Linked DNA regions of Homo sapiens: region 1 is linked to region 2. A link means that fine-mapping ties the variant in region 2 to the expression of a gene that starts in the linked region. Tissue or cell type: whole blood. Region 2 holds a variant in brackets; the other region holds the start of a gene. All regions are shown on one strand. Distances are from middle to middle.

Evidence for each region. PIP is the estimated chance that this variant, and not a neighbour inherited with it, causes the effect.
Region 1: PCDH9 starts here. The variant in region 2 is fine-mapped to the expression of PCDH9 in whole blood (TOPMed, PIP above 0.99).

The regions. Positions count from the first base shown.
Region 1 is chr13:67,228,775-67,231,538 of GRCh38, reverse strand. It overlaps PCDH9 (protocadherin 9), which reads left to right and starts at 1,203. Exons shown (of 5, transcript NM_203487.3): 1 at 1,203-1,759. RefSeq lists a silencer at 793-932.
Region 2 is chr13:66,994,177-66,996,940 of GRCh38, reverse strand. All of the region lies in intron 2 of PCDH9 (protocadherin 9), which reads left to right. It overlaps PCDH9-AS4 (PCDH9 antisense RNA 4), which reads right to left. Exons shown (of 3, transcript NR_046637.1): 2 at 660-719. Among named protein-coding and RNA genes, the nearest start is that of PCDH9-AS4, 4.7 kb to the right of the region's middle. The variant G/A (reference allele first, on the strand shown) is at 1,423.

The DNA of each region.
Region 1 (2,764 bases), 230 kb before region 2:
GCTGTATTTTTTGGGGAGTCATTCCATCCAGTTCCCGTATGAAAACGAGAAACTTGTGAGGATTTAGTACAGAGCTGGAGTCGGAGAAATGAAATGCACGGGAAAAGACGAAAATCACAGGAAAGAAAGTTGGAATCAGCAGAAAGTGCCTAGGGGAAAGGAAGTGTTCCACAGCTTGGGAAACAGCTGCCTGGGACTCCTTCCAGCCCCTCGGAAGCAAAGTTCGCAGTGAGGTGGGCTGGAAGCGGGTTTTGCAGCAGCCGCGAGTCCGGGCTCAGGTTTCCAGGCGCGGCTGGAGCAGAAGTGCAGGGACCGCCACGATCCACCGCCGCGGCCGGTCCCGCTCCGCTAGAGGAGACTTCGCACGCGCAGCCGACTGGCCCGGGCTGACCGAGGGGACCCAGACGCTGCCACTTTCTCTTTCCAAGGCAGTTTCCGTGGCTCTGCATGTAGGAAGTGCTCCGATTAATTTTCTTTCCGGTCTCCGCAGAGATTCCAAATTCTGCGGTCCCCACCTTTCGCTGTACTCCCTCTCCGCCCTTCTTTCCAATGTCCCTGCCAGCAAAAGCCTCTATTTGCAGCACCGGGCATGTTGTCCGTTTAACGCGCTCCGGGGATCTGCTGGCTCGTGCTCCCAACCCAGGGGTGGCTATACGTCTCGCGCCTCTGTTCCTGGGTAGACTCCCCCATCTGTGCATTTTGGCCCCTTCACTTAGCAAAGAGATGTGCGAAGTGTGCGCCTGGAGACGAGCCGCCTCGGTGACCCCCATCCGCCCGCAGCGGTGGCCCTGGTTCCCCGGATCCGCGCCCGCGCCCTGCGGGTCTCCCGCGCCGCCCTTGCCCGCCGGACCACCCGGGCTCAGAGGGTCGCTCGCTTTCAGCGCCTGCGAGCGCCGCTTCCGCCCGGGCCTGGGGAGCGCCAGCGCGTCCCTCCCACGCCGGACCCTGCAGAGCATGCTCAGTGCACCTCATGGAACCCGGCTCTCCTGGGGCCAGGATCAGATTTCCGGGTTTTCGCTGCTGCCGAGGGGGCGCGGAGGAGGGGAGGCTGGGAGACAGTCAGCGCCTTGTTCCGCGCTCCCTCCCTCGCGCCGGGCTGCGGCCGCCCGCGCCGCAAGATGCAGGCCAATCAGAGCCCGGGGGCGGGGCCTGGGCAGTCACGCCCTCCCTCTGGGCTTATTGAGAGTTATATCAAGAAATTCAGTTCAGAGAGAGGAGAGGGAGAAGGAGAGAGGGGCAGAGGGGAAGGGAGAGAGGGAGAGCACGCGAGACGGAAAGGAGCGCCTCAGAGTCTCTGAAGCACGCAAGAGATAACCGATTAGGAATTTTTCGGGCAACTGTCACCCGGATAGCTGTCAGAGAATCATCATCACCGCAACTCTGACGTTTCCTACAAGAAGTTAGAGACTTAAGCAGTATTGGCATCGGATGGAAATGGTATGCATGCTGCTGTGGAAAATATCCCTGAGCTGAAGAAGTGCAACTATGTGTTGTGTGTGCTAAATGCCCAGAAGAACCCAGACCCAGTGGGTAAGAGAGACGAAATGTGGAGAGAATGACTAACGACAAATCCGTGAATTTGTTCTCTGGAGTTGCTAATTTGCCAGCCCGAAGCAACACATTTTACAAGGAGGAAACATTTTGCTGCTTCTGATTTCTCCCCAAACTGGTGCTACCAGATGCATGGCTTTCTATGTGTTGGAACAAATCATTCCTAACTGCAGCATACTGGGAAAGGGGAAAGGTTGAGGCAACTAACGTAAGTGTAAAGTTTCGCATGCACAATTGTAAATTCTGTGTTTAGATGTGTCCTCAGTGTAGGCGAAAGATGCTTGTAATTGGGTAGACGGTTGGGGCAGAGCTCACCTACTCGGCTGTATCTGCATCCCTACCTGCATCACTCTGCCGGAACTAATCGCGGGCATCAGCTACTGTGCAGCCTAATGCAGATAAGATTAGAGCCTGAGAACTGACCAGTCCTACTCAAGTAGGTAGCTGCCTGGAGCCTTGCACCCATTTAAACTGCAGTTATCTAAGCAGAAGCCTTTTTACCTGCATGATTGGGTTGCAGTATTTATGTGTGGCAAATGTTACTAATATTCTAACCAGAGATCAGGATTAAGAAATTGCATTTTTTTTCTCTTTTATGTTCAGTAGAAAATATTGTGATGTTACATGGGAATGTTAGCTGCGTTTCACTTATATCTCGGCACTCTCTTCCACCTCTAGGAAAATGAATCCTATATTATTATACATTTTTAAAAGTTTTAATGTGTTTATGAATCCTAATGAGGATAATTTGTCAATATGGAGAAAGGAGAGCAAGCTGTGGGCAAGAAATCTGAAGTCTTGTTGTTGTGCTTTTAGGCAATGAGGATGTGTAGAGGCCGGTGACTATTGCTTCTGATGCCGCTGCAGCGGCATGTCCGGATGCTCGTTTCCCAGTAAGATTGTATTAGAAGGCAGTTGAAGAACTGGGAGGAAAGAAAAAGATAGCCTTTTTAGAAAAGATAGGTGACTCAGTGGGGCAGAGAAGAAAACACATTTGACATGTGACAAAGCAATTAGCAGGAACCGTAGCTAAATACTTAGTGTTTTTCACTTGCACCTGAAAAGACTGAGGGAGGTAGGTTAGAGGCTAGGAGGAGGGTGAGACAGGGGGAGGGGAAGAGGAGAACAAGAATGCATGTTTTGAATTAAACAGTATTCTGAAAAACAACGTGCGTGAATATAGGTAAAAATAGCAGCTGTCCTTAATTCAAAA
Region 2 (2,764 bases):
CTATTCCTGTCAACAACTCTTTTTCTCTGTTCTTTTCTTCCTTGATGCTAAAAACTTAGTTTTCAATTCTATACTGAATTTTCTATAAAAATCCTTTAATTTTGCATTTGGAGTAAGGTCTCCACCTAACTTGTTAGCTTTTTCTTTTACGATTCTGCAAGAAACCAGACACTTACTAGCCAAACAGTACTATTCACATTTAGACACATTCATTCAGGGATTTCATAATACTATCAGTTTACTTGTACATTTATTCAGTAAACATTTTTGTGTGCTTACTGTATGTCAGTTTGGTACTAGGCACTGAGCATACACATAAACTTAATTTATAATGTTGATGCTATTTCCTTTCTTGAAACACTCTCACACTAGCAATGCTTATTAAAATTCTTCACATATCAAATTACTTATTCTTTAACAATTAAATTTATTTAGTTTAAAAGTTGAAAGAATGTAGTAGAATCTTTTTTCAAATATCTCTTTCTCTGTGAGGCCTACCTCACCCACCCTAATTAAAACTATAATCACTCATTCCCAGCATGAAGAACTCAGAATCCCAACTATCCTGTGCTTTTTCTTTTTTTTTTAAACACTAATGTTCTAACATGTCATATAACATATTTATTACTGTGTATTGAATATTACTTGTCTGTACTCACTAGAATACAAGCTTCACAAGGGCAGAGAGTGGTGACTATTCACCAATGTACTCCAACTACCTGGAAAAATAGTAACATTCAATAAAATGTCCCGCTGGTAAGATATTCTCTTAATGAAACCTCTTCTGAGAACCCAAGCTTCAGTTTACATAGCACTTTCCTTGTGCCTCTCAGATAAGACAGAACATTTTCCTTTACTGTATCTTCCCATTAAATACAAAGCTCTGCAAGACTAGACAGTGTTGTTCACATATTTGTATCTTCTGGAGAGTTTAGCCCATCAGCCGAATTAATTGCAAATAATTATTGAAAAAAAATAAATGAAGTTAATACAATAATTCATAGTATACAGAGAAAATAATCTGTATCATTTTTCAAATATTGTGACCCAGTTGGGTCTAAGTAAATTATTGTTTTCTTCATTTAGGTTCTTTTAGTTTGAATTCAGTATATCAGAGGATTTTTAGACAGCAGTAATGCAGATGATATGTTCTCTCTGAACTGCTCGAGTATATTTGATATACATAATTTTTCAATCTTTTTATAGAATGAGATTGAGGTTTGCCTGAAAGAAGAAAAGCTCAAGAAGCAGTAGTCTTTGCTACAGGAAGACACACTATAACAGATGTTCTTTTCTTTTTTTATAGTCACAGAAAACCATCTTAACTTTGTGAAATTAAAGGGTAGAACTGACACAAACATGGAACAATTCTAACTTCCTAACCCAACCTCAAAACTTAGGGTTTGAAAATTGGTTACAGCT[G/A]TTCCTTTCTGTTTCTTAGGGTTTTGTTGTTGTTACTGTTGTTTTTTTCCCTTAGTGGTGGACACTTTTATGCACCAGCACTCAAGCAGAGTCTCTCACTGCAGGTGCATTTACCATTTGGGGACCGTGCTGCCCTTGTTTTGTTAGCCTCAGCATTTTTAAAAACCTCACTTCGCCCGTGGTGCTTGTGAATATATCACTGTCCACCTCTTTTGCCTTTTGTATTTACCGTGTCTTATGCTTCAGCCTTTCCGATGCCCTTGAGAAGCCATAACCATGCTTTACATTTGAAAGAGTGCCAGCTCATTTAATCAGGCTGAGTTTGAGAGGCATGGATGAATTTATTCTATCTAACATTTAATAAAAAATAATTTAAAAATGTGACTTATGCCATGACATGCTTAGCATTACCCTTCCGGGTTTAAATTTGAGAGCTGTCAGCACCCTCCGTGGTCTGGAAACTGACATGTTATCAATCAAGTGCGTGGGTGACAAGGCCGCTGATGTCCTCCCAAGGCTCTTGTTTAATAATTAATTTTTCATTGCAGGCATGTTCCGTAAATGGATTACAAAACTTAAGCCCGTTTAAAAGGTTTTAGAAATTCATTATTAGTTTTAAAAGATGAATGCACAAATTAACTATCCATGATAGATGAGGCATACCAAATATAGCCAGGTCCTATGTGGTTTTGGCTTATATTTATATATAGCGTAGAGTAGGGTAAAAAGTCAGTACAGTTTTATAGAGAATGTCACTGAAGCACCGAGGAAGTGATTCTTTCAAAGGAGACTCAAAAAAGGAGATCAGATGACAAAATTGTGCTTTGAACATTTTCATCTTTTCTGTTGCTCTCAGAAGTCCCCAGCCATCTAGCCTCTGGACAGGCTCAGCTCTATTTCTGGAGTCAGTACCTCAGCTTGTTTTTACCACAGAATAATATTATGATTTAGAATGAAAGAATTCTTATCAGTTATCACATCTTAATTTCCTTAATTCAACGTCAGTGCCAGTTTTTAAGCTGTTATCTTTCAGCTCCAAACCCACCAGCTTTGTGATTCCCCGGGCTAGTCTCAGCGCTCTGCATATCCGCTTTGCCATCTGGCTTCTTAATAAGTTTGGCCAGTAGGGCACGCTAGAGGGAGACCGAATGGCGGGGTGAGGGGAGCTACTGCGTCCGGCTTTGCAGGCCGTTCCTTTCAGGGTTGCCGCAGCAATGGCACTTCATCCTGGCAGCAGCCATTTGCTGGTTGCAGTGCCAGTTTCTTGGTTTCTTTTTTGCATTCCTGGAATCAGTTTCATCACTCTCTCTTGGAGTTACCAAGAGTCGCCAGTCAGTTTCCT